Linked DNA regions of Homo sapiens. The protein of the gene in region 1 interacts with the protein of each later gene in a pairwise test. Each region holds a gene or a part of one and is shown on either strand. Other genes may lie near its edges.

Region 1 (4,037 bases):
TCAGGGGTTCGAGACCAGCCTGGCCAACATGGTGAAACCCCATCTCTACTAAAAATGCAAAAATTAGCTGGGCGTGGTGGCTTGTGCCTGTAACCCAAACTACTCAGGAGGCTGAGGCAGGGGAATCGCTTGAACCAGGGAGGCAGAGGTTGCAGTGAGCCAAGATCATGTCACTGCACTCCAGCCTGGGCGACAGAGTGAGACCCTATCTCAAAAAAAAAAAAAAAAAAAAAAAAAAAGAATGGCAAATTATCTCCAGTCCAAACTTAACTCCCAGGTAAACTGACTGACTCCTATTACTAAAAGCAACAAACAGCAAACAGGGAACCTACAACCAAATTGAGTTTGGTTTCAGAGAAAACTCAGAGAACTCCCAAGGCCAGCCTTAACCAAAATCACCCAGCAGTGCCCCAAAATAATATGAAGCTATTCTAAACTGAAGCCTTCACAGACAATTTCCTGGCATACAAATGCAGTTATAGAGGAGATGGCGTGTGGGTGACATTATACACAACCACCCTGTGAGATTTAGTATCCCTATTTTAAGGGAGGAAAGTCTGAAAAACTGACTTGTCCAAGGTCATCTGCTGCCACAGTGTCACAATTCCAACCCCTCTTCTCCTCCATATCAGTGATTTTAACACCATAGGGACTGCACACTCTTTTATACAAATCTCATTTTTAAAATCTATTTGAAACTCCGTCTAAATTGTACTTAAAAATAATGGCCTCAAATAATATTAACATATAATCTGTCTATTGGAGATCACTAACGTGTTAATCTACTCTTGCCAGAATAACTGATTATGCGAAACCTGGAATAAAGGTGTTCCTGCCAAGTAGCTTGAGATAATTAAAGCAAGCTGTTTAAACAAACAAAACAGCAAAAAGTGCATCTACTTATCCATATACATCAGAACTTTTTGACACTGTGTAACTAAACCAAAATAAATATACTGAATGCTGTGTTCACCGTTTTTCTGACGGATGAGAACTTTAAAGGTAAATGCTAATACATACGTGAATTTGGAAAACAGTACCTTTTGTATATGTAGGGTCCTGCATTTATTACAGAGTTCAACCAATAGAAAAGGCCGGAAAACCACAGCTGCCAGTGGTTTTGAATTATTTTCCCCCTTTTAAAGGCCTAACTTGATATTGAGTCTTCACACAGATGGCTGATTTGAAAAATATTAAGTAAAGCAAACAACTATTACAAAGTAGGCCTTCTCATATTATGCCATTTTCTACTACAGAAAACAAATGATAAGTATGTTTCAGCCATAATAATTTTTAGACACAAATTTGTATACCTGAGAGGTATTTGTTTACAATGTTAGGTCTTCAGACTGAACAGATGGGAGCGGCATTCCTCATCAAAGGAAGACCTTAAAAATCCTCCGCCAAAATCCTGCCTTTTGCCATATGATGCAACCATAGGCTACACCTGCTTCACCAATTTGTGTACCCAATAGTCATTCTCATGGCAACACAGCCACCCAGTTTCTTGGAAGCAGCTATGGTGAAACTGAAAAATGTGCCAGGGTGAATTCTAGAGGACATGGAATGCAAGCTTACTAAATAAATATGCAAATTTCAAAATAACAACTCAGAAGGAAAACTCACTTCTAAAACATTCTTGACCATATGAAACAAAAACAGACACAGGCGCTACCACAAGCTGGAACTCACGACTTCACTATCTTTTCCTGCCCGGATGCCCTCTCCTGTGTGATGAAGAATTATGCTCGTGGGCAGTGAAGAACACTGCTGACACTTACATAATATCAGAGCAGAAAGTAAATACAGGAAGGGCCAGCTTACAGCCTCATCACGTGGTGGCCAGGGCAGGCGGTGCTAAGGGTGATGTTGACAGATGTGTCAACCAAAACAAAGCAAGGAAGTCTTGCTAATAATGGAGAGGCTGCCGTCCTAAAACCAGACTGAAGGCGACTCCTGCCTGCTTCCCTTCTCAGTCGCTCTTGGTCAGAAAGTGCACGGGGCTCCACCCCGGGACTCGGCAATGGCTGCTCGGTCCAGTGCGACAGGGAGGGGCACGGCGGAAGGTGGCCAGGGAGGAGAAGAGCCACGTCCTGCTTCTGGGTGTGGGGCCTTCCGTCCACAGTGTCTGGGCGGTCCCCAGGTTTCTCAAGCCACGGCCCCGGGTGGCACCTGCCCGCTCCTCTCCCTGCAGAGAGGCTGCGTTCAGAAACCTCATTTTGCAGCACGGATGTTTTCTTACTTCTAGCCATTGGATGCAAGCCCAATTAGGAACACCGAGTTGCCTGGCCGCTGGGGGAGAAACAGGCTTGGAGGGTGAAATGACTCGCCCAAGGTCAGGCTGCTGATTACTGACGGCTACTGGGCAACAGAGGGGCGCCCGCGTCGGCGGGGCAGGGAAGGGGAGACCACAGCCCTGGGGGAGGTGACCGGCCGAGCGATCGCAGCCGTCAGCGGGAGGAGGCCACAGGACAGGGCAGCCGGACGTGGCATCCCCAGCAGAGGGCGGGGGGCCACAGCCTAGGGGCGGGAAGTCGGGGCCGCTCTCACCGGACGCTCGGGGTAGACGCGGCTCAGGTGGGCCTTGAGGTGGCCCACACTCCAGCCGCGGTCGCCACTCAGCTCCAAGTCGCGGTGGCGCTGGTTGGGGCTCTTCACCAGGAGCGTGACGGGCTCGGGTTCGGTCTCGGACTCCATGGCGGCGGCGGCGGTGTCGGGGCTCCGCTGCGCTCCTAGGTGCCAGGCAGGCGGCGTCTCAGCCGCCCGCAATCTCTGCAACGACAGTTCACGTCTCTGGGGCGCGCGCCCCCGCTTCGGGCGCCTTTTATAGAAGCCCCGCGCCCGGCTCTGCGGACAGAACGCTCTGTGGCTGCCGCCCATTGGCTGAGGCGGAGGCACTCTCCCAACGTGGCCCAATCGGCGTCCGGATCCGGGTGGCAGAGGGCGGACCGAGCACGTGGGCACGGGCTGATGCAACCCGCCGCGTCTGCGTCACCCAGAGGCGCGGCTGTGCCCCGGGAACCCGGGTTCGGTGGCCATGTTTGGGTGCGCTGCAGGCCGCGCGGGGAGCTTGGTCTGAGACCTGCGAGGCCCCCAGCTCGGGTGGCTGAGGGCGCCCGAGGCAGGGGGTGGGGAGTGGGGTATCCTAGCAGACCCCAGTTTAGCAGTCTCTGCAAATTCTTTCCTCACAAAGCCGCACCCCCACCCTTTTTCACCCCAGGTGTCAGTGCCCACTTCCCCTTTTCCTGCCTCTGTGGCCCCACGTGGAAACCTACGGGGAAGCCCGTCCTACAGGGGAAGCCTACCCACTCGAACCCTCAAAGAACGGCTGGGCGACCCCGAGTGCAAGCCCACCTAGGAGAACTCCACGTGCTCCTAAGAAAGACAACGAAGGAGCAAGGCCAGATTTTCCTTGGGCTGGGAGGATGGAGGCATCCAGGCAGCTGTTGCCAATTTCCCTGGGCCTCAGACTTGAACGTTTGGGACATCACCCTAATGATGATTGACAAGTCAGCCACAGTCCTGCTCACACTGGAGTCCCCCTCAAAACGCGTCACTTTATAAGATACTCACACATGCACCCGTTAAATTGGGGCTGAGACGAGGAGGGCGGGGTTCTCCGATTCCTGAAGTGGGACCATAAAGGCCTCTTTATTGTAGGCGTTCCCTCCTCCTCCTCTGTAGGAAAAAAAAAAAAAAAAAAAAAGGCTTGAAAAACAAAACTGACATTGCCCCGGCTCCCTCCTTGTTCCAACCCCCTTGGGACATCTGTTTTTTCAGGTGTTGTCAGGAGCTTGTCAAGGTCAGGAAGGTAACAGGAGGAGCCTGGTCTGGTTGGTGGGTATATTCATCTGCTGCAGCTGCCATAACAAAGTGCCACAAACTGGATGGCTTAAGACGGGGTCCCCAACCCCCCTGGGCCACGGACCACTATGAGTCCCTGGCCTATTAGGAACCAGGCGGCACCGCAGGAGGTGAGCCACCAGCGAAGCTTCATCTGTATTTACAGCTGCTCCCTATCGCTGCATTACCACCTG
Region 2 (4,235 bases), on another chromosome or scaffold:
GTTCAAGCAATTCTCCTGCCTCAGCCTCCCAAGTAGCTGAGATTACAGGTACATGCCACCACACCTGGCTAATTTTTGTATTTTTAGTAGAGATGGGGTTTCACCATGTTAGCCAGGCTGGTGTCGAACTCCTGACCTCAGGTGATCCACCTGCCTCAGCCTCCCAAAGTGCTGGGATTACAGGCGTGAGCCACCATGTCGGGCCACAATAATATTATTACTATATTATTACTATTTTTTGAGACAGGGTCTGGCTCTGTAGCCCAGACTGGACTGCAGCGGCACTTTCCCAGCTCACTGCAGCCTCCATCTCCTGGGCTCAAGCAACCCTCCACCTCACCCTCCCAAGTAGCTAGGACTACAGGTGCACACCATCATGCCTGATTAATTATTATTATTATTATTATTATTATTATTATTTTGGAGGTCATCTGGTTTCACCATGTTGCCCATGCTGGTCTTGAATTCTGGGGCTTAAGCAACCTGCCTTGTCTCAGCCTCTCAAACTGCTGGGATTACAGGCATGATTGCCACTGTGCCTGACAATAATAATAATAATAAAATTATTATTATTGGAAGCCACTGTTTCTTGAACATTTTGTGTTTTGTGTCAACTTTTTTTTTTTTTTTAGGGACAGATATTGCTCTGTCACTCAGGCTGGAATGCAATGGCACTATCTTGGCTCACTGCAGCCTCGAACTCCTGGGCTCAAGTGGTCCTCCCACCTCAGCCTCCTGAGTACGTGGGACTACAGGTGTGCACCACCACACCTGGCAAATTTATATATATATATTTTTTTTAGAGACAGGGTCTCGCCATCTTGCCAACGCTGGAGTGCAGTGGTGCAATCACGGCTCACTGCAGCCTCAAACTCTGTGCTCAAGTGATCCTCCCACCTCTGCCCCCTGAGTAGCTGGGACTACAGGCAGTGGCCACCACGCAGCTTTAAACACTGTATCACTGAAACCTTGTTTTATTTTATTTTATTTATTTTTTTTTTTGAGACGGAGTCTCACTCTGCTACCCAGGCTGGAGTGCAGTGGCGCTATTTTGGCTCACTGCAACCTCTGCTTCCTGGGTTCAAGCATTACTCCTGCCACAAGCCTCCCGAGTAGCTGGGATTACAGGCGTGCACCACCATGCCCGGGGCTAATTTTTTGTATTTTTAGTAGAGACGGGGTTTCACCATGTTGGTCAGGCTGGTTTGGAATTCCTGACCTCAAGTGGTCTGCCTGCCACGGCCTCCCAAAGTGCTAGGATTACAGGCATGAGCCACCGTGCCTGACCTCACTGAAACCTTATAATAACTGTCTGAATTTGACACTATTGTTATATTTATTCTACAGATAAGGCACAGAGAAGTTAAGTAATTTACCTAAGATCACTCAGCTAAGTAGGTAAAATTTTTTTTTTTGAGACAGAGTCTCGCTCTGTCATCCAGGCTGGAGTGCAGTGACGCAATCTCGGCTCACTGCAACCTCCGCCTCCAGGGTTCAAGCAATTCTCCCGCCTCAGCCTCCTGAGTAGCTGGGACTACAGGCACCCGCCACCATGCCCAACTAATTTGTGTATTTTTAGTAGATACGGGGTTTCATCATATTGGCCAGGCTGGTCTCGAACTCCTGACCTTGTGATCCGCCCACCTCAGCCTCCCAAAGTGCTGGGATTGCAGGCATGAGCCACCGCGCCCAGCCCTAAGTAGGTAAATTTCAAAGTGTGTTAGTCCCCGCTGCAGAACCCCATGCCCTAGAATATTACCATCTCCAAATCTTGGGCTCTGGAGAGCTGGCAGGCAGCACAGCAAGTGGTCCTGAGCAGCCCCGGCCTCCATGACTGTGGGTGTCAGTTGCAGCTGGCTGTGCCTATTTCCTCATCGGGGAAACAAGAGTCATTGAGGTGAACCTACCTCTGGTTTTGGGAGTCCTTGAGGAGTTAAGATTTGTCCAGCACGTGGCACACAGGCTCCGGTAGACAAAGCTGTGGGTAGCACAGGACCCAGGCAGGAGTCCCCACCCCCCCACCCCCACAATGTCAGAGTGACCTGGCCCTGAGGCTCTCTGCTGACTATTATGGGTTGGCTGGCACTGCTCAGCACTCCAGCTGGTGTTGAGGCAACAGGAAGGACAGAGAGGAAGTTGGGGCACTCCCCTCCCCCATGCCAGGTAGCAGTGAAGAGTCCAGGCCACTTGGTGTGTGTATTCGGAGTCTGGCATTCCACTTTCGTATTATTTTTATCCCTAGAGTAAAAGGTGTGCAGAATTTAGCCAGGTGCAGTGGCTCACACCTGTAATCCCAGTACATTGGGAGGCTGAGTTGAGGAGGAAGGATCGCTTGAGGCCAAGAGTTCAAGACCAGCCTAGGCAACACAGTGAGACCCTCTGTCTCTACAAAAAATTTAAAAATTAGCCAGGCATAGTGGTTCGTGCCTGCAATCCCAACCTTTTCTAAGACTGGGGTGGAAGATCACATGAGCCCAGGAGTTTGAGGCTGCAGTTAGCCATGATCGCGCCACTGCACTCCAGCCTGAGCAACAGAGTGAGACCCTGTCCCAAGAAAGAAAGAAAAAGAAAGAAAGAAAGAAAGAAAGGAAGGAAGGAAGGAAGGAAGGAAGGAAGGAAGGAAGGAAGGAAGGAAGGAAGGAAAGAAAGAAAGAAAGAGTACAGCATTTAAAAACTGAACCCCCCCTAGCCGGGCACAGTGGCTCACACCTGTAATCCCAGCACTTTGGGAGGCCGAGGTGGGCGGATCACTTGAGGCCAGGAGTTCAAGACCAGCCTGAGCAACATGGTGAAACCTGGTCTCTACTAAAAATACAAAAATCAGCCAGGCATGGTTGTGGGCTCCTGTAATTCCAGCTACTCGGGAGACTGAGGCAAGAGAATCGCTGGAACCCGGGAGGCAGAGGTTGCAGTGAGCCAAGATCATGCCACTGCACTCCAGCCTGGGCGACAACAGCGAGACTGCATCATAAAAAACAAACAAACAAACAACAACAACAAAAACCCTCAAATTCCTACCAGCTGTGTGGCCTTGGGCAAGTCACCTAAACTATCTGTGCCTCAGTAAAATGGGAATAATAATATTCCTGCCTTAGGGGGTGTTGTAAGAATTCAACAAGTTAGAAGGGTAGAGCTGAGTGTATAGCGCTGGTTTTCAGTGGGTGTCATACGTAGGCTAGCTGCTGTTATCACTGTCCACACGCATCCTCTCACCCCGCAAAGACTCCACCCTTCCTGGCCCTTGTTGATTACAATCCAGAAAACGAAAACTTTCTTTTTTTTTTTTTTTTTTTTTTTTTTTTTTTGAGACGGAGTATCACTCTGTCGCCCAGGCTGGAGTGCAGTGGTGCGATCTCGGCTCACTGCAAGCTCCACCTCCCGGGTTCGCATGATTCTCCTGCCTCAGTCTCCCGAGTAGCTGGGACTACAGGCGCCCGCTACCACTTCCGGCTAATTTTTTGTATTTTTAGTAGAGACAGGGTTTCACCGTGTTAGCCAGGATGGTCTCAATCTCCTGACCTCATGATCCGCCCACCTCGGCCTCCCAAAGTGCTGGGATTACAGGCGTGAGTCAACATGCCCAGCCCAATCCAGGAAACTTTCTGTGCATATAATTTGCCCAGCTGTAAGCCCAAAGCAATGGTATCGTAGATGGCATTTCCTTTGTAACGTCTTAACCAGAAATGGGAGCTTTCAACATACGTTGTTCCATTTCTTCATCTTTTCCACTTAACGTGCCCGATATCTGTTTTCCTGTCTATCTGTACAGATATCAACCCCATTCGTCCTCAAAGCATCAAAAACAGTCCACTGTCTGCCCAAGTGGTGCTTATTAACTAAAGGCCATTCAATAACAATGGTAAGGAGAATAATGAGAAACAGGGCCAGGTGCAGAAGCTCACACCTGTAATCCCAACGCTTTGGGAGTCCTAGGCAGACGGATCACTTGAGGTCAGGAGTTTGAGACCAGCCTGGCCAACATGATAAAATCTCATCTCTGCTAAAGATTTAAAAAAAAAAAAAAATTAGCTGGGCGTGGGGGCGAGTGCCTGTAATCTCAGCTACTCAGAAGGCCGAGGCAGGAGAATCCCTTGAAGCTGGGAGGTGGAGGTTGCAGTCAGCTGAGATCACACCACTGCACTCCAGCATGGGTGACAGAGTGAGACTCCATCTCAAAAAAAAAAAAATTGGATTTGGCTTAGATGATTTTGTCTTGCTGTTGGGTAATGTAAATG
Region 3 (2,900 bases), on another chromosome or scaffold:
GAGCATGGCTGAGCCTGGACAAAGACAAAGGTGAGCAAAGGGCTCACGCATTCAGCCAGGAGATGATACTGGTCCTTAGCCCCATCTGCCACGTGTATTTAACCTTGAAGGGTTCACCAGGTCAGGGAGAGTTTGGGAACTGCAATAACCTGGGAGTTTTGGTGGAGTCCGATGATTCTCTTTTGCATAAGTGCATGACATATTTTTGCTTTATTACAGTTTATCTATGGCACCCATGCACCTTACATTTGAAATCTATGAAATATCATGCTCCATTGTTCAGATGCTTCTTAGGCCACATCCCCCTGTCTAAAAATTCAGAAAATTTTTGTTTATAAAAGATGCATTATCTATGATATGCTAATATATGTATATGCAATATATATAGGCTCTTGCTTGATCTCTCCAGGAGGTAGTGATTATGAGAAGGGGGTGGAGAATGATGAGTTCCTTCACCAGGAGCAAAGGACGGGGATCGTGTGGAACCACTGCAGAACTATTTCCGAAATCAACTAAGTGGAGAGAGCCAGGAAGGCTGCATCAGAACCCAGTAAAGCTTCTTGTCTGGATCTGAGCTGGTTTGTTTTGTGCTTGCTTTTCCCTGCCTTGCCACTCCCCTCACTCTTCTCTTTTCCCCACAGCCTTTTTCACATAGCTCTTGGCTGTAGGATTGCCCCACTCCAAAAACCAGTGTGTGGAGGTCCAGGAGTGAGACCAGGAAAGAATGTGAAAGTGACTACACAAGGACTCCTCGATGGTCGTGGAAAAGGAAAGTCAATTGGCAGAGCCCCTGAAGCCAGTCTTCAGGACAAAGAAGGAGCCTAGAGACAGAAATGACAGATCTCTGCTTTGGAAATCACACGTCTGGCTTCACAGATGTGTGATTCACAGTGTGAATCTTGGTGTCTACGTTACCAGGCAGGAAGGCTGAGAGGAGAGAGACTCCAGCTGGGTTGGAAAACAGTATTTTCCAAACTACCTTCCAGTTCCTCATTTTTGAATACAGGCATAGAGTTCAGACTTTTTTTAAATAGTAAAAATAAAATTAAAGCTGAAAACTGCAACTTGTAAATGTGGTAAAGAGTTAGTTTGAGTTACTATCATGTCAAACGTGAAAATGCTGTATTAGTCACAGAGATAATTCTAGCTTTGAGCTTAAGAATTTTGAGCAGGTGGTATGTTTGGGAGACTGCTGAGTCAACCCAATAGTTGTTGATTGGCAGGAGTTGGAAGTGTGTGATCTGTGGGCACATTAGCCTATGTGCATGCAGCATCTAAGTAATGATGTCGTTTGAATCACAGTATACGCTCCATCGCTGTCATCTCAGCTGGATCTCCATTCTCTCAGGCTTGCTGCCAAAAGCCTTTTGTGTTTTGTTTTGTATCATTATGAAGTCATGCGTTTAATCACATTCGAGTGTTTCAGTGCTTCGCAGATGTCCTTGATGCTCATATTGTTCCCTATTTTGCCAGTGGGAACTCCTAAATCAAGTTGGCTTCTAATCAAAGCTTTTAAACCCTATTGGTAAAGAATGGAAGGTGGAGAAGCTCCCTGAAGTAAGCAAAGACTTTCCTCTTAGTCGAGCCAAGTTAAGAATGTTCTTATGTTGCCCAGTGTGTTTCTGATCTGATGCAAGCAAGAAACACTGGGCTTCTAGAACCAGGCAACTTGGGAACTAGACTCCCAAGCTGGACTATGGCTCTACTTTCAGGCCACATGGCTAAAGAAGGTTTCAGAAAGAAGTGGGGACAGAGCAGAACTTTCACCTTCATATATTTGTATGATCCTAATGAATGCATAAAATGTTAAGTTGATGGTGATGAAATGTAAATACTGTTTTTAACAACTATGATTTGGAAAATAAATCAATGCTATAACTATGTTGATAAAAGATTTAAAAACAACTGGCTGTTTTTTTACACTGTGGTGTGGAAGATTGTGTTGTGTTCACAACTTTTCACTTCTTCCCCTGTGTGATTACACACACCTGCCCTTGTGGTGTGACTTGCAGTGCGCCCTACAGGCCACACACCCCACGCCCTCCACCACTGGCTCTGCTGCTGGAATGTGAGCAGAAGTGACATCTGCCTCATCCAAGCGGAGCCTCTTGCTCAGCCACAGGAAGGCCCATTCCAGATCACACCCGTCAGCCCGTGCGCCCTGGTGAATGAGAAGACACAGGGAGCTGCAGCCACATATAACATGAGCAAGAAGTCTGTGTTTGCTGTGATAAGCCACTGAGTTTTAGGGGTTGTTTGTTAAGAAGCACAAAAACCGATTAAGACATGTGGTATATAGTGACTTCATATATAGAATCTGGAAAACTATCCATTTATTTTCAATCATGGAATTCAATATGACAAGCATCCCGGAGGGTCTACCTATGCCAGACTGGGTTGGAAACAGAAAGACAGATGTTAATGCCAGTGTCCTTTACACCTCCAAGTCCAGGGCCAGCTGTGGAGTGGGAGGGGTAGAGAAGGTCCTGTGCACAGTCACAGTGCGCTGTGCAGAGCAGGAACAGAGGCATCTGTGAAAAGTGCTGAGAGCCTGGAGGACAGAGTGACTAATGCAATGACAGTCTTGCATCATAGGAATAACAGCCACAGCAGGATTTTATTGCTGCCAAAGAAACTGCCATTTAAAAATTGCCAGCCATCCGGGAGGCTGAGGCAGGAGAATGGCATGAATCCAGGAGGCGGAGCTTGCAGTGAGCCGAGATCGGGCCACTGCACTCCAGCCTGGGCAACAGAGCCAGACTCCATCTCAAAAAAAAAAAAAATGCCAACCATCTCTCTTTCTAAAGTGGAATCCTCAAGTCTCGTTTATTCTGGGGACATTTGAGTAGGCTGTTCGAGTTAAGCAGGTGGAAGATGATGATCCCTCATCATCATTCTGA
Region 4 (4,235 bases), on another chromosome or scaffold:
TCCCTGCTTTATCATAAAAACCAAAGTAGACCAAAGTGTGGAAGTGAACAGGATAGGCCCCACTCCTGCCTTAGCCATCTTCTGATGCTGGTTTGCCTGCCCTGGCATTTTCTATGCCCAGACAGGTATCCACTGAGCACAGCCACCTCGTAGGGGTAGTCAGACTTTGATACCACCACATAAGACATGACTGGCATAAAGAAAATTATCCTTAAACCGTGAAGGACAGTGTACAGGCTGTGAGTGAACTACAGGGATTCTTGGTTAGTCTAACACAGCCACTACTTCCTCCAGTTAGAACAGATGACTAGTCTTTCAGCTGAATATCAGATGTGGTTGACTTGAATTCAGGAGCTACCTTGTATAAGAATATCTTCACGTGTACTTTTTTGCATTATATATGCACACGATCAGTTTAGTCTGTAATTGTTTACATATATCCAGTAACACAAGAGCAATCTATTTATAGGACTTAAAAAAGATTACAACAGGATATATATATTGATACCTCTGACTTAAAAAAAGGAACGTGATACCTAAAAACTGAAAAGAAAATATGGCAAAACTGTGGTATGAATAATGTGGAAATGCATTTTTTTCTTTTTTGTGAGACAGAGTCTCACTCTGTTGTCCAGGCTGGTCTCAAACTCCTGGGCTCAAGCAATCCTTGGGATCCTCCTGCCTTGGCCTCCCAAAGTGCTGGGATTACACATGTGAGCCACTGTATCCAGCTTGGAAATCTATTTTAACATCTTTATTTCCAAAATTTTGATGGTAAATACTACTTTCTTAACCAGGATAAACTCCACATTCCTCAATAAACTACATGTTATATACATATTAAAAAGCAGTCTTTTTAATATGCTCAAGCCTGTACTCCCAGCTACTCAAGAGGCTTGAGGCTTGAACCCAGGAGGCGGAGGTTGCAGTGAGCTGAAATTGTGCCACTGCACTCCAGTCTGGGCAACAGAGCAAGACTCCATCTCAAAACAAAAAAGCAAACAAGGAGTCTTGCACAGGGTAGAATGTGACAGTAGACACTAAAAGCATTTTACTTTTGAGGTGTGTGTGATATCTGTGCACACACACACCTACAAGCAGGGAGAAATCACCTTATATAAGATTTACCAAAATCAACTGTATTTCCTTTTTTTTTTTGAGATGGAGTCTTGCTCTGTCGCCAGGCTGGAGTGCAGTGGCGCCATCTCAGCTCACTGCAACCTCTGCATCCTGGGATCAACTGATTCTCCTGCCTCAGACTCCCAAGTAGCTCAACTACAGGCGCGTGTCACCACACCCGGCTAATTTCTGTATTTTTAGTAGATACGGGGTTTCACCACGTTGGCCAGGATGGTCTCGATCTCTTGACTTCGTGATCCACCCACCTCGGCCTCCCATAGTGCCGGGATTACAGGCATGAGCCACCACGCCCGCCCAAAATCAACTGTATTTTTTTTTTTTTTTTGAGGCGGAGTCTCACTCAGTCACCCAGGCTGGAATGCAGTGGCGCCATCTCAGCTCACTGCAAGCTCCGCCTCCCAGGTTCATGCCATTCTCCCGCCTCAGCCTCCGAGTAGCTGGGACTACAGGTGCCCGCCACCAAGCCTGGCTAATTTTTTGTATTTATAGTAGAGACGGGGTTTCATCGTGTTAGCCAGGATGGTCTCGATCTCCTGACCTCGTGATCCACCCGCCTCGGCCTCCCAAAGTGCTAGGATTACAGGCGTGAGCTACCGCGCCCGGCCAAATCAACTGTATTTCTATACACCAGTAATAACCAGAAAAGTGTCATTTAACGAAGACCCTTAACCACAGCAACTTGAAAATAAACGAAACCTAGAAGTAAAACTAGTAAAATTTGCAAGACCTTTAAGGAAATCGATAGTCTTTACTGAAGATCTAAATAGGCTGGGTGTGGTGGCTCACACCTGTAATCACAGCACTTTGGGAGGCCTAGGTGGGTGGATCACGTGAGGTCAGAAGTTCAAGACCAGCCTGACCAACCTGGTGAAATCCCATCTCTACTTACAAAAATTAGCCAGGGGTGCTGGCAGGCGCCTGTAATTCCAGCTACTCGGGAGGCTGAGGCAAGGAGACCCGGGAGGCAGAGGTTACAGTAAACCAAGACTGCGCCACTGCAATCCAGCCGGGTGAAGGAGTGAGACTCTGTCTCAAAGTAAAATAAAATAACAAATAGAGACAGGCCAGGCACAGTGGCTCATGTCTGCAATCACAAAACTTTGGGAGTTGAGGCGGCAGATCACCTGAGGTCAGGAGTTCAAGACCAGCCTGACCAACATGGTTTCACCAAACCCCATCTCTACTAAAAATACAAAAATTAGCTGGGTGTGGTGGCGGGCACCTGTAATCCTAGCTACTCAGGAGGCTGAGGCAGGACAATCGCTTGAACCCAGGAGCCAGAGGCTGCAGTGAGCCGAGATCGTGCCACTGCACTCCAGCCTGGTGACACAGCAAGACTGTCTCAGTAAATAAATAAGCAAATAAATATACAAATAAATGGAGAAATAAAATCTTCATGGGGAAAAAAAGATCACTCAGTATCATAAAAATGTAAATTCTCCTGAAATTACTTCATAGATTTAGTAAATATTCAATTGGGGTTTTAAGGTTTTGAGGTTTATGGGGTTCATAAACTAACTCTAATACAGAAGAGCAAGAACTGAAAAACAGTCAAAATCCCTGAAGAAAAAATCTGCGTTACTAGCTATGAAGAATTAGCATAAAGACACAATAATTTGAGGTTGGGTGTAGTGGCTCATGCTTGTAATCCCAGCAATTTGGGAGGCTGAGGTAGGTGGCCACTTGAGGTGGCCAGGAGTTAGAGACCAGCCCGGCCAACAGGCAAAAATCCATCTCCACTAAAAATATAAAAATTAGTTGGGTGTGGTGGCATGTGCCTATAAGTCCAGCTACCTCAAGAGGCTGTGGTGGGAGAATCACTTGAACCTGGGAGGCTGAGATTGAGCAACACTCTGTCCCTAGGGGTGGAGGAGGGAAGGCCGGGCGTAGGGGATCACACCTGTAATCCCAGCACTTTGGGAGGCGCCAAGGTGGGCAGATCACCTGAGGTCAGGAGTTTGAGACCCGCCTGCCCAACACGGTGAAACCCCATCTTTACTAAAAAGACACAATTAGCTGGTGGCGCACACCTGTAATCCCAGCTACTTGGGAGGCTGAGGCAGGAGATTCGCTTGAACAGAGGTTGCAGTGAGCCAAGACTTGCGCCATTGCACTCCAGCCTGGGCACCAAGAAGGAAACTCCGTCTCAAAAAAAAAAAAAAAAAAAGGCTAATCTTTTTTAAAAAGGAACAAACCATAAGATACCTAGAAAGAAGTCAGGCAAAGGCAACCTTAGAAAACAACTCTCAACATCAATTCAATCTCTTTAAAATGCTCTGTGGTTTAAAGTTCTGCCAGATGACCTGGTTATGCTTTTACTGACCTTAACAACCCCACACTGCTTAAAGAAGTCTGCCAGATCATCTAGAGTCACACTGTCATTTAATCCTTGTACATAAATTGCACTGTTGTCAGAGTCTTCATCTGGATCTACAGGTGGGCCTTTCAGAGACAACAAGACAGGAGAATTATTATCATGTATCTATAGGGGTTTCTTAACTACCTGATCACTACTGCCCAAGGATATTCATCATAAATCTAAGAAAACTACCAAGCATACTAAGAAGAATGCTATCAAACTTTTGGTTTACTTCACTTAAGGCAATTATGAGTAGATGCTCACATAGGATTTCCCAAACTGTCCTTGACAGCAAGAATATCACACTGGTCTATAAGGCTGCTGAACTCTACGCATGCATTTACCTCTGTACCATTAATTTACAAAGCACGATATGAAGCACAACTAGAATTCAAAATTACCTAGATCAAGATCTGGTCCTTCATCCATGGGTCCTGCCAACCAGGAAAGATCATATAAAATATTATTAGTGCACGTCTTGCAAGCTACAAACCTTACAAACACACATAGCTATCTACTATACCACCATTTGATGGGGATTCATTAAACTCAAAATGACCCGCACTGCTAAAATGGAGCAGTGTCTCTTTAACATTTGTGAAAGGTTTGCTAGGGTTTGCTTTTTTCCTTTGCTGGTTTGCTTCTAAACCATTAACCAAATACACTCTCAATGCTTATGTGCCAAATCAGTGTTAAATTTAAGTCAAAATTTTTCCTCTAAATAAACCAAATTTAA
Region 5 (4,235 bases), on another chromosome or scaffold:
TTGGGCAGGAGGCTCAGTTGTTTCTGAGGGCTAAGGCTTCGCGTCCGGCAGAAGTTCCCAAGTCGCTCAGCCCGCTCTCTCCTGAGGGTCTCAATGGCCTTTTTTTGCCTGAGGCAAAACACGATTCGCTGAAGCTGGCCCTGAATGTCCTTCACTTTAAGATCTATCTCTGACCCCTGGAAGATCCCAGAGATGAACCAGGGCAGAGGAAACAGCAAGCTATTAGCTTTCTTGGGTTCTCTTTCCTCACAGCCCACCCCTTCCCCTCCCGACTCCAGGCTGGGGGTCCTTACCGTGCATAGAGCTCCTTCCAGGTGGATGTCACAGGTTCATCAGCAGCAAGCGCCTCCCCTGTCCCACTCTGCAGCACCTGGAGCAGGGCATCGGCCTCCCCAAAGCCATGGTGCAGTTTCGCTTCTGTGAGTTCCACGCTGAGTGAGAGGTTCTGGGCCCCAACTTGCAGGGGGATCTGCTCCCTCTTGGACCACTCAGAATCCTGGCTGTGGTCATTAGGAGGTTGTGGGGGACTCTGTTCCTGCTTTTCAGAGCTGAGATCACCGCTGGCCCCCAGCTCCTCCTCAGTCATGTCCAACCCCCCAGGTGAGCCCTTCTGAACCCCACACCAGTTACTAAATTTGTTATGCACCGGGAGGTCCCTCAGACTGTGGTGCTGGTGCTCAGGGGCCATGCACATCTGGCAACTGAAGCACAGTAACTCCTCAGGTTGGCAGGCCTGAGGGAGGCCCAAGGCAGAACCTCGGAGCCCTGCAGTATCAGTCAACTCAGAGACAGGGCAGGGGCTGAGGTGCTGGAGGCCTCCCCATGAAGAAGGTCGGTCCAGAGTGCGTTGTGGTTCCCCTGGAGATGCTGAACTCTCACCTCCATTTTCTGTCCTGCTCTGCCACTGACTTGGCTCCCTACCGCTCAGTGGGCAATGCTCCGGGGAAGCCACCTTCTCAGGCACAAAGCTGTTGCCCAGCCTTTGGCTCCTGTGCCTCAGTGGTGGTGGCAGCAGTCTGCTTTGGACCCCGATAGTTGTCCTGGGCTGAAGCTGCTGAGGGTGCTGCCCTAAGAAACTAAATTGGAGTTTTGGACTCTGCTGTGGGCTGTGTGGGGAGTGCAACTCAAGGAAGGATCTCCCATTACTCCTTTGTAAGGAACTTCTACCTCTCTGGGAGCCACCTAACTCGTCAGTGGTTTGGGAATAATTATCCATTGGAGTCCTTGGGGCATCAACAGGGTCTGGGCTGGAGTCAAGCTTCTGGTGGCCTTCAACAGGGTGAGTTGAAGGGGCTGAGAGGGTCAAAGAGCCTGGGGAAAGACCCGGCTCTTGGGTGCTGGCACTAAGAGTGAGGATTGGGGAGGAGGCCCTGTCCACGAACAAAGCACTTGTGGGGCCCAGCTTCTTCTGGACCCTGGAGTCCCCAGGATACTCGGAAGTACTGGGAAAGAGCCCTGGGGAATGAGGGGAGCTGGGACTGGGACTGCTGACAACTAAGCAATATGACTCCTCTGGCTGGGAGCTGGGAGGCAGGAAAGCATCAGAAACTGAGGGGCTCACAGAAGGAAGATGCTGCCCAACGGGGGCTTTCTGAAACCTCAAGTGGGATGAGGGTATTGAAGGGCTCTGGGGCTTGTAGGGAGTGCTTTCTTCCTGAAGATAGAGGAGCTGAGCCATTTTCTGTGCTGTTTCCTCTGCCTCTCTCTTCTGAGGTACCCCTGGCACATCTCCCTCTTCTTGAGACACAGTCGAGGTATCTGAGCCTAGCCCTTCAAGGATCACATTGGCTCCCTGAGGTTCAGCCTCTGAAGTCTGGAGGCACAGGGTGGGTAAGGTGAGGTCAGTCTGGCTGCCCTCATCCACAGTGGTCTGAGTAGAGCCATCCATCATCAGGGCCTGTGGGGCTTTATCTGGGATGTCCCTCTTGGTGTTCTGCTCCCTTCTGGCCACATCTGGCTGGGAGAGACTCCCAAGCAGCTCTGAGGTACTGTGCAGGAGCTGTGAGAGGTGGAGAGACAGATTGTGCATGCTGGTCCATGAGGCCAGATCAAAGGCTGATACTGCACTGGCTTCAGGCTGAGCAAAGGAGATGTCAGTGCTGCTCCAGTGGCGCCTGCTGCCGAGGGTCTGTGTGCCCTGTTCGAATGTGTTCGTCCTGGTCTGTCCCACAGGGCAGCCTGCCTCTGATGGATACAGCAGCATAATCTCATCCACTGGACCTGCAGCACTTCCTTTGGCCAAGGGGGGCTTACTCCTCAGACAGTCTGCTTCACCAGAAGGGCCCCTGAACTGAGGCCTTCTGTCATGACCCGAAGTGGGGGCTACTCCTTCAGGGCTCGTCGGGATGTGGGGGTCTCCTAAGGCAATTGAAGAACTCCCTCGGAATACTTCCCAGGCCTCATTTGAACCCTGGGCATTCTCAGTGCTGCTGTGTGTGGTTGACAGATCACAAATATTGGCGTAAGTGCTGAGGTGGGAGTGGAAAGGGGAGTTCTGGTCTTCTAGGCCATTGTCCATGCTGGAGCACCGGGCCACATTTGATAGTGTCAGCCCCTGGGGCTTCTGGCTGCAGGAAACATCGACTGCACTGCCAGACATATACTGCTTCCAGCTGATACGTGCAGGCTCCTCCGGACGCCACGGCAGCGCATAGGGACTGATGTCACTGGAGCCAAAGTGCAGCATTCCTTTGTCCATCTGAGAGCACCAATTTTCTGGCCTAACCTGGACACCCAGTTTCTCTCGCTTTCCCTGTTGGGCTTGTTCCAAAGTACCAGACATCCAGCTGGTCGTGAAATCAGGGGTTGGCATGTGTGAGAGAGTGGAAGGCATTGGATAAGGAGGGGTGGCAGGCTTCAGGTGCCTGTGATCGGTAGTCCCATCATCCAAGCGAGATGAGGCTTTCTGATTGCTGTCCTCAGCCTGCAGAGATGTTCTTGCCACTGACTTTCCTGAGGAATAGCCCCTGAGATGTGGGTTCCACAATCTGTTAGGCCCCTGTGTATCTTCGTCTGTAGGGGAAGGAGGCTCCACACTCAAGTTCAGCTCCTGAAGAGAACGAGAAGAGCCGACAACTGAGAACTGTGGTGTGGGGGAGGACCTGGAGTGTTTGGGGCCAGAGAAGATTGTAGTCACAGGAAGTGAGCCCCTGTGGTTGGGTGCTGGCTGCTCTCTGCCAGTGTAGAGGTGGCCACTCCTCTGAGCAGCAGGCTGCGGTGTTTCATTTTGCCTCAAGGACACAGTGGCTGGGTCTTTGAAGCCCTGTGATAAAATCTTGGACACAGGAGGCTTGGCCACAGCCACCTCCTCTCTCCCAGCATCTAAAATCTGACAGCCATCTAAGCCATCTTCATCAGGAAGGGGATTCACACCCTGGGCGAAGCCTTCTCCACCACCTGAAGCCTGGTCTCTGTGCTGCTCTTCTTCCTGCCAGGGACTGTCTTCCTGGGGGCTGCAGGTATGTTTTAACCTTGCTACAAACTTGGCTTGGGAATCCAAGCGATTGTGATCCCTCAACTCAGTGGAAAATTGTGGCTTTTCCAAAAAACATCTAGTGGTATTTTCTAAACATTCATGCTGTGGCTCTACCACCAACTTGCTCTCAGCAGACCCTTCACTTAAATCCAGGGTGTGTGGTCCCTGAGTTGTTGCAGGTGGTTCTGGATTGGTTTGACACACCTGTGCATTCTGGTCACCTACAGAGCTGTCCCTAAACTGCCTCAGGGGCTCAGAGTACATGCCTGCAGGGAAAGAGGCAGCCTCAAGTTCTGTGCTTGCTTGCTTCTCAGCAACCTTTTTCTCAGGAACCCCTATTAACCCCACGCTTCCATCAGTAGCTGAGTGGCTGAAGGAACCTGTCCTCACGTCAGGAGCAGAAGGGGATCTGCAGCCTTGAGCTCGAGATAGGACAGCAGCCACAGTAGAAGGCTCACAAGTGCTGCTCTCTGTTAGCCTAAATTCCCTGTTAACATCTTTGGGCTCAAGGCCATGTGTCAAGTGCACATCAGGTCCCCTAGAGATCTCTCCTGTCTCATCCATTTCATAGGCCCTGGAAGGTACTACACAGGGTGGGTGGATAGTATGTGGGGCAGCCTTGAAAGGCTCCTTCCCTAGGTCACCATCTCTAAAACACAGTAAAGTAGAGGAATGGGAGGAATAAGCATGAGTAGCAACAGGTTGAGAACTGCATGGCTGTCGGCAAGGAAGAGTTCTGCTCTCTTTCCCTCTAGACGGG
Region 6 (4,235 bases), on another chromosome or scaffold:
CTCCCAGTCAATGCTGATACCTGGGCACCGAGGGGTTAAATGTCACTTGCAGCTGAGATCTCCCACGTCTGTACCCAGCCTGGCTCACCTGAACTGCAGACACAGGTGACAAACAGAGCCCCCCCGCAGCTGGTTCATTTCCCAAAGGTGCCCTTCCTGCCCTGGTATCTGACTTCCCTGGTTTTTTTGTTGTTGTTTTTTAAGAGATAGGGTCTTGATCTGTTGCCCAGCTGGAGTGCAGTGGTATCATCATAGCTCATGCAGCCTCAAACTCCTGGATCCAAGCAATCCTCCTGCTTTGTTCTCCCAAGTAGCTGGGACTACAGATGCATACCACCACATTCAGCTAGTATTTTTATTTTTGTAGAGGTGGGGTCTTGCTACATTGGCCAGTCACAAATCCAGCTTCCCTCTGGGAGCAAGCAAGGGTGGGGCTGCAGGAAGGAGAGAGGCTGGGACGCTCCCTGCCCCATGTGCCCTGTGCAGGCTCCACTCCTCCATGTGGCCTGCTTGACACATTCCTGCTAGAGGGACATGGGCGGCCTGCTCCTGCACTCTGCAGCAGGCCCTGGGCTGGCCCCTCCTTTGTAATGAGTCCCTCTGCAAACAAGGCCCCCTACAATCCTCACTTGAGTGTGCGTCTGTCCTGCTAGGAACCTGACCGAGACAATGTTCTCTCAAGATTCACCTGCACAGAAGGGAACTCCTGGTTTTCTCTACTTGCCTCTACCTCCACGAATGGCAACTCCCAGCACCCCCTGCTCAGGCCAAAAACAAGGGAAAGCACTCTCGCCCCATGCACTGTCACCCTTCCTCCTGCACCCCACCCACACGCAGGCCCACACACACAGGGAAGATGCTGTGGTCAGGTGTATTCGCAGCCCACCTTCTGCAGGCTGGTCCCTGTGGAGCTGGCCGCTGTTTACACCTTCCAAAGGCATTCTCAGGATCAAAGAAAAGACTAGATCTAAAGCATTCAGGGCAGTGCTTTTGACACTCTTGGACTGTCCCAAGTTCACTAAGGGTGAGGCCTTGGGCAGGCGCTAAGCAAACATCTGTTCTGTGCATGACTATGTGGCCTTGCCGAGAGGTTTTCTATCCAGTTCCTGTGCCGGGTTCACATGTGTACTAGAGAAAAAGGAGACCTGCAGAGAGTAAGAAAAAGAAAATAAGTGAAAAACAAGCAAGGCGCGGTGGCTCACGCCTGTAATCCCAGCACTGTGGGAGGCCAAGGCGGGCAGATCACCTGAGGTCAGGAGTTCGAGATCAGCCTGGCCAGCATGGTGAAACCCTGTCTCTACTAAAAATACAAAAATTAGCTGGGCGTGGTGGTGGGCGCCTGTACTCCCAGCTACTTGAGAGACTGAGAGAGGAGAATTGCTTGAACCCAGGAGGTGGAGGTTGCAGTGAGCCGGAGGTTGCAGTGATCCTAACGTTGCAGTGAGCTGAGATCACACCGCTGCACTCCAGCCTGGGAGAGTGAGACTCCATCTCAAAAAGAAAAAAAAAGAAAAAGAAATAAAAATACAAAAATTAGCTGGGGGTGGTGGCGCACGCCTATAATCCCAGCTGCTTGGGAGTCTGAGGCAGGAGAATCGCTTGAACCCAGGACGGGAGGGATGCAGTGAGCCGAGATCATGCCATTGCACTCCAGCCGGGGTGACAAGAGTGAGATTCCATCTCAAAAAAAAGAAAAGAAAGAAAAGAAAAAGAAAAGAAAGAAGGAAGGGAAGGAAGGAAGGAGAGAGAGAGAAATAAAGAAGGGAAGGAGGGAAGAAAGGAAAGAAAGGAAAGAAAGGAAAGAAAGAAAGAAAGAAAGAAAGAAAGAAAGAAAGAAAGAAAGAAAGAAGAAAGAAAAAGAAAGAAAGAAAGAGAAAGAAAGAAAGAAAAGAAAAGAAAGAAAAGAAGGAAAGAAAGAAAGAAGCGTCCCATGTTCTGGTGTTTGGTGTATTATCCACTGTGGTCATCAGCCTCCTGGAAGCCACTTTCCCCGCACGAACCATGTGGTCTAAGATTTGGCATCAATGAACTTTTGGATAAGGCTGGAGACTTGAGTGTGAATGGAAAGACTGAAATGAAAACCTCTGTGACCGCTCAGCGCCTTACAGTAGCCAGTCACCGCATATGGCTGCTTACATTTGAATTAAATAAAGACTTCAGTTCTTCAGTCTCATGAGCCACCTTTCAAGTGCTTGGCAGTCACGTGGGTGAGCGGCTACCACTGTGGACACAGCAGATGTGGGCCACCCCTGCAGCAACAGACAGAGCCGCTGGCAGTGCTGTCCTCCCACCGAGATGCTGAGAGGCAACAGCAGGCATCTCATGGTATTCGATGTCACTTTTTTTTGGAGACAGAGTCTCGCCCTGTCGCCCAGGCTGGAGTGCAATGGCGCGATCTCAGCTCACTGCAACCTCTGCCTCCCGGGTTCAAGCAATTCTCCTGCCTCAGCCTCATGAGTAGCTGGGATTACAGGCGTGCGCCACACGCCTGGCTAATTTTTTTTATCTTTAGTAGAGATGGGGTTTCACCATGCTGGCCGGGCTGGTCTTGAACTCCTGATCTCGTGATACGCCCACCTCAGGCTCCCAAAGTGCTGGGATTGCAGGCGTGAGCCACCACGCCTGGCCCGATGTCACTTTTCTATGCACGGGAGCTGCCATACACACTGTAACCACCCTGGTCCCCATCCACTCTGGGACCATCCTTCCACTGCTGGGTTATGAAGTTCATGCCTGGGATGCAGAGTCATCCAGCCCCTCCATTTTGCTGATAAATTATCTAGAAATACAACCCTGGGATACGACAAGTGCACGCATACATCATCTCAGGCTGTGCGACCTCCTCCCCGGCCCCCTGGAGAAACCCACGAATAAGCAGGGGCTTCTGAGCCAAGAAGACCAGGTCAAGTCAAGCCAGGAGCACTAAGCAAGACACCCAAGGAATCATCAGCTGTTCCTGGAGAGCCTGGGCAGGCTCAGTCTGCCCCTGGAGCTTTCAGCCTAGCCAGGCAAGGCAGATGAGATGCAGTGAACCCAGGCTTCTGGTTCTTCATCTACACTGCACGCCTTGCTCCTTGCAGGAACTGCCTCTCCACTCTCAGTTGTCCACATGCTTCTAGGTCAGGTGATGCACAGGCCCACCAGCCAGAGCCCCTGCTCAGGAACTGGTGCTCCCCAAACAGATCTAGGAGGAAAAATGGTGGGTAGAAGCCACAATGGCAGCCGGGGCAGGGGGTGGAGAGGCTGCCTCCTGACAACAGCAGCCTGCAGGAGACACACAGGTGATGATTCCACTTAGGGCGTGATCATAAGTGCTGTCAGCACTGCCAGTTTTCCTAGAAACTTCAGGCACTAAATCTGTTTTTCCATGTCTTCTGTAGCTATGTGACTTTCCTCTTCTGTAATGGCTTGCAATGACGTTTTTAAAGAAAACGCTCCACACCCTGAAAACACACATACAAGGAGCAACTACGAAAGCTTAAACTGGGCACAAGGTTGACAAAGCAGCGAACAGATATGACTCAGGTCCAGAGGGACTAGAAATGACTCAGGCACAAAGGTAAGTTTCTAAGAAACTGAGGAGGAATGTGCAATTCTTCTCCTTTTTAAACCTGACTTCAAGTAGGAAACTGAAGCGGTGGAAAGAAAACTGCCAGTGAGCCCTGAAGGAGGAGGCAGTGTGGGTCTGCAGGCACTGACACTCCACACCCAGGACAACTCACGCTGCAGCACCCAGACCACCCACGCGGCATGCCCACGTGCCTCCCAGGACACTCGGGAGCAGGAGCTCTGTCTGTTCATTCGCCAGATGCGTGGGACACCCTTTAGGGAAGTCACCAAGCAGCTTGTTTTCCCAGCAGCAACTATTAATATAAGTTAATTTGTTAACAAAGCTTCTGCTGTGTGTAACCTTTATTATTTATCTATTTGTTTTTTAGGTTTCATTTAGTGTAACCCAGCAAGTACTTTTAGAAATTTTTTTTTTTTTTCTTGGAGACATGGTCTCGCTTTGTCAGCCAGGCTGGAGTGCAGTGGCACAATCATGGCTCACTGAAGCCACAAACCACTGGGCTCAAGCAATCCTCCTGCCTCAGCCTCCTGAGTAGCTGGGACCACAGGCATGCATCACCACACCTGACTAACTCTGCCTCACATTTTTTATGAGAATAACTCTAAGTACCCACACTGAGCACTGGATGTTTTTCAGCAGCTGATCATTCATACCCTAGAGCTGT
Region 7 (4,235 bases), on another chromosome or scaffold:
GGGAGATTTGGGAGAAAATAATGTGGTTTAAAAGGAGAAACAACATTATGTATTTTAAACCAATGTTTATATTATGTTTGTTAATTTTATTCTATTTCCTTGCAGGTTTAAATGTTTATTTGCTACTTGGCTACTGATTAGAGAACGCAAAATGAATAACTCAACAAACTCCTCTAACAATAGCCTGGCTCTTACAAGTCCTTATAAGACATTTGAAGTGGTGTTTATTGTCCTGGTGGCTGGATCCCTCAGTTTGGTGACCATTATCGGGAACATCCTAGTCATGGTTTCCATTAAAGTCAACCGCCACCTCCAGACCGTCAACAATTACTTTTTATTCAGCTTGGCCTGTGCTGACCTTATCATAGGTGTTTTCTCCATGAACTTGTACACCCTCTACACTGTGATTGGTTACTGGCCTTTGGGACCTGTGGTGTGTGACCTTTGGCTAGCCCTGGACTATGTGGTCAGCAATGCCTCAGTTATGAATCTGCTCATCATCAGCTTTGACAGGTACTTCTGTGTCACAAAACCTCTGACCTACCCAGTCAAGCGGACCACAAAAATGGCAGGTATGATGATTGCAGCTGCCTGGGTCCTCTCTTTCATCCTCTGGGCTCCAGCCATTCTCTTCTGGCAGTTCATTGTAGGGGTGAGAACTGTGGAGGATGGGGAGTGCTACATTCAGTTTTTTTCCAATGCTGCTGTCACCTTTGGTACGGCTATTGCAGCCTTCTATTTGCCAGTGATCATCATGACTGTGCTATATTGGCACATATCCCGAGCCAGCAAGAGCAGGATAAAGAAGGACAAGAAGGAGCCTGTTGCCAACCAAGACCCCGTTTCTCCAAGTCTGGTACAAGGAAGGATAGTGAAGCCAAACAATAACAACATGCCCAGCAGTGACGATGGCCTGGAGCACAACAAAATCCAGAATGGCAAAGCCCCCAGGGATCCTGTGACTGAAAACTGTGTTCAGGGAGAGGAGAAGGAGAGCTCCAATGACTCCACCTCAGTCAGTGCTGTTGCCTCTAATATGAGAGATGATGAAATAACCCAGGATGAAAACACAGTTTCCACTTCCCTGGGCCATTCCAAAGATGAGAACTCTAAGCAAACATGCATCAGAATTGGCACCAAGACCCCAAAAAGTGACTCATGTACCCCAACTAATACCACCGTGGAGGTAGTGGGGTCTTCAGGTCAGAATGGAGATGAAAAGCAGAATATTGTAGCCCGCAAGATTGTGAAGATGACTAAGCAGCCTGCAAAAAAGAAGCCTCCTCCTTCCCGGGAAAAGAAAGTCACCAGGACAATCTTGGCTATTCTGTTGGCTTTCATCATCACTTGGGCCCCATACAATGTCATGGTGCTCATTAACACCTTTTGTGCACCTTGCATCCCCAACACTGTGTGGACAATTGGTTACTGGCTTTGTTACATCAACAGCACTATCAACCCTGCCTGCTATGCACTTTGCAATGCCACCTTCAAGAAGACCTTTAAACACCTTCTCATGTGTCATTATAAGAACATAGGCGCTACAAGGTAAAATATCTTTGAAAAAGATAGAAGGTGGGCAAGGGGAGCTTGAGAAGAATAAAAGGGATAAACGAGCTCCTAGTTTTAAAATCTCTGCCATTGCACTTTATAGTCTGATTACAAAACGTGCAATTCAGGAGCCCAGCAGTGACACACTTATCACGCCTAGGCTCCAGTTTGCAAAAATTGCACCTTATAAACTGTCAGTATTAGGAGCAATGAGACAATGAAAGAAACATGTTGGGATCGTGGATTTAAGAAACTATACACTGTTTCTCATAATCTCTTGAAGAAGGGCTTCTGATTCTACAATTTTATCAGTCTCTGCACAAGAGGAATAACCTTGTTCCTTTTTTGTTACTTTTGTTGTTGTTGTTCTCATGTGTCCTTAAGAGAAGGAAATGCCACAGTTACAAGGTAAACATGGAGACTTAAACATAAAGAAATAGGCACTATACAATGGGGACATAAAAAAAGAAAATCAAAGAAGGATGCAGAAATTGTCTCCGGAGTGTTAAGCATATTTTATTCTTTTGTTACGGTCCTATTTAGAGGATTGGAATGTAATAAATGCTTATTTTTTGCCTTTCTTTTTCCCACCATGAAGAGAAAGCAAACAAACAGAAACCCCAACTAGGTCACACCATTTTTCTTCTTGTTATGCCACTATTTTGTACATCCCTGTTCTATATTGTTTATAGGGAAAACCTACAGGACTTTCACTAAAGCTAGCCAGAGACAGCCATGAAAATGGACGTTTCACCCCTCCTCACTGTGTCCTTTGCATTCGTTGGGGATATCAAGGTCTATAAGGATTTAGTGCACTTATAATCCTATATGCGAAATGTTTAAACCAATCTGATTTTCTCCTAAATAGCCTTTTATATCAACAGAATATCCTACCTAAAACATAAACCTGTTTAAGAAACCATCGTCACTGTAAAGTTGAGGTTTCATCAAATTAAATAATGGACTATCTAGTTGGACCAAGTTTATTAAAGTCAGGTGAATTTTAAGATTAAAAAATAGAAGTTTAGGACTTTCTATTTCAACCTGAATTTGCCTGACCCATGTATGAAATGTTAACTTATAGAAAATGAACTCCTGACTTTCTCAGCAGAAAGGAATGCTGTTTTATTTATTTGGAATCCTAAACAGGATTAACATACTCACATAGCACCAGTGATTTCTGGGCCAGTCCCTAGAGAATAGAACCTTCTATCCAATGCCTGCTAAAGGATGATATTCAAATTATAACCAAGTGAGGATGTCTGCAATTATCCTATGACCCCATGAAAGGGGAAAAAACGATATTTTAAAAACTATTACTGAAACAATTACATATTCCATATTCCTCAAATTGTCAATTCTCCCTAACATTATTTAACTTCAAAATTCTCTTATCAATAGAATTATAGTAATCTTTGTGACAGAAATGTAGTGGCTAACTAAATAGAGGCCAAACGAGCTTACAGAATCTGACAGAAGGAGGTAGGTGGCTGTTGCCATGCCACATCTCACCATCTAATTCTAGACCATAATAATCATGTCAGGAACTATTATCTAAGTGGTGGCATTATATAGAATCTTGCCACGTAGAGATTTTTTATTTGGTCGTCTAAATAAATATAGGATTAGGATTATACGGATTCACATACAACTAGTTATTTTTATCCTTTATATTTTTCTTACAGTATTTGCTGTAGTTTTCCAATGAGATTTTCTAAAAATGGCTCAATCAATGGAAATCAAATTATAAACGCATTTGCAAATTTCATATTTTGGATTTTAGATTTATGATATCTTGTTCAGTAATAATAATGTTAGTTACATGGTAAATTTATCAATATTAGACCCCAGCACTTAAAAGAATTATTTTGTATGATTAGCCTCATAGATGCCACCTCAACATTTTGGAGAGTTAAGGAGGAAAAAAAGCATGAGGGAAAAAAAAAACCAAAAAACTTATAAGTTAGTAAGAAGCAAATTGCCAGCAGTATTTATATTTGACTTATCCTTCGTAAAAACAATTTCCTGTTTAAATAACTTCAGTCATTACCCCCCCAAAGTAATCTTCCATATTTAAAGCATTCATTTATAGAGATTCCCTTACCTACAGTTACTTCAACATGCACTTTTACATTTTAAATTCATATTTATTTTCATATTGTTTCTTCAAATGAAGGAATCAGTTGAACGGAAATAACGTCAAGCCAGTGGGCTCCTCGAGTTTCTGAAAACCAGAGAATTGACTAGCCAAGTATTTCCCTTTTTAATGTATTGTATTATTATTATGTAGATTTGGCTTCAGTTGGGAAGAACCCTTTGGCATCCAGGATTCAGGATTCAGGGTCTTTTTTTGTTTGCTCTAATAATCCAACGCACCATGAATCAAGCTTTTAGTCTCTGCTGCCATTGTATCCTTCCTTTTCCTCCCTCTGTTATTGATCCTTGCCACAGCCACTGCAACCTCATTGAAAGAGAAACTGTCACTTTAAAGAAAGAAATTGAAGATAGGCTGACACCATGGAAACTACGTCAAACAGATAAGAAAAATGGAAGGAATACTGAAAATGATAGATGATTGGAGAGATATGGAGATTATATTCAAGGATTTTTATTAACCACTGCTGGATTTGTCTATTTCAGTGGCTCTCAAACAGAGACAATTCCCCTCTCCCCGAAAGGGGACA

What was found.
Region 2: the proteins of HERPUD1 (region 1) and C5AR2 interact in a two-hybrid assay, tested with the Homo sapiens proteins (one large-scale study listed by BioGRID and IntAct).
Region 3: the proteins of HERPUD1 (region 1) and CCR2 interact in a two-hybrid assay, tested with the Homo sapiens proteins (one large-scale study listed by BioGRID and IntAct).
Region 4: the proteins of HERPUD1 (region 1) and EWSR1 interact in a two-hybrid assay, tested with the Homo sapiens proteins (one large-scale study listed by BioGRID and IntAct).
Region 5: the proteins of HERPUD1 (region 1) and STARD9 interact in a two-hybrid assay, tested with the Homo sapiens proteins (one large-scale study listed by BioGRID and IntAct).
Region 6: the proteins of HERPUD1 (region 1) and IMPA2 interact in a two-hybrid assay, tested with the Homo sapiens proteins (one large-scale study listed by IntAct).
Region 7: the proteins of HERPUD1 (region 1) and CHRM2 interact in a two-hybrid assay, tested with the Homo sapiens proteins (one large-scale study listed by BioGRID and IntAct).

The regions. Positions count from the first base shown.
Region 1 is NC_000016.10:56,930,905-56,934,941, reverse strand, and holds the start of HERPUD1 (homocysteine-responsive endoplasmic reticulum-resident ubiquitin-like domain member 1 protein), read right to left. Parts: upstream 2,801-4,037; 5' UTR 2,698-2,800; coding exon 2,551-2,697; exon of another isoform or gene 1,648-2,550; coding exon of another isoform or gene 1,627-1,647; intron 1-1,626. UniProt on the Homo sapiens protein: Component of the endoplasmic reticulum quality control (ERQC) system also called ER-associated degradation (ERAD) involved in ubiquitin-dependent degradation of misfolded endoplasmic reticulum proteins.
Region 2 is NC_000019.10:47,334,842-47,339,076, reverse strand, and holds part of C5AR2 (C5a anaphylatoxin chemotactic receptor 2), read right to left. Parts: intron 1,983-4,235; exon of another isoform or gene 1,908-1,982; intron 1-1,907.
Region 3 is NC_000003.12:46,359,036-46,361,935, forward strand, and holds the end of CCR2 (C-C chemokine receptor type 2), read left to right. Parts: 3' UTR 1-641; coding exon of another isoform or gene 642-825; 3' UTR 826-1,905; downstream 1,906-2,900. UniProt on the Homo sapiens protein: Key functional receptor for CCL2 but can also bind CCL7, and CCL12. Also transduces signaling mediated by CCL13.
Region 4 is NC_000022.11:29,291,835-29,296,069, reverse strand, and holds part of EWSR1 (RNA-binding protein EWS), read right to left. Parts: intron 3,934-4,235; coding exon 3,901-3,933; intron 3,583-3,900; coding exon 3,464-3,582; intron 1-3,463. UniProt on the Homo sapiens protein: Binds to ssRNA containing the consensus sequence 5'-AGGUAA-3'. Might normally function as a transcriptional repressor. EWS-fusion-proteins (EFPS) may play a role in the tumorigenic process.
Region 5 is NC_000015.10:42,690,401-42,694,635, reverse strand, and holds part of STARD9 (stAR-related lipid transfer protein 9), read right to left. Parts: coding exon 294-4,235; intron 177-293; coding exon of another isoform or gene 164-176; exon of another isoform or gene 109-163; coding exon 1-108. UniProt on the Homo sapiens protein: Microtubule-dependent motor protein required for spindle pole assembly during mitosis. Required to stabilize the pericentriolar material (PCM).
Region 6 is NC_000018.10:12,005,243-12,009,477, reverse strand, and holds part of IMPA2 (inositol monophosphatase 2), read right to left. Parts: intron 1,141-4,235; exon of another isoform or gene 1,069-1,140; coding exon of another isoform or gene 887-1,068; intron 1-886. UniProt on the Homo sapiens protein: Phosphatase that can use myo-inositol monophosphates, myo-inositol 1,4-diphosphate, scyllo-inositol-1,4-diphosphate, glucose-1-phosphate, beta-glycerophosphate and 2'-AMP as substrates in vitro.
Region 7 is NC_000007.14:137,014,715-137,018,949, forward strand, and holds part of CHRM2 (muscarinic acetylcholine receptor M2), read left to right. Parts: intron 1-105; 5' UTR 106-151; coding exon 152-1,552; 3' UTR 1,553-4,235. UniProt on the Homo sapiens protein: The muscarinic acetylcholine receptor mediates various cellular responses, including inhibition of adenylate cyclase, breakdown of phosphoinositides and modulation of potassium channels through the action of G proteins.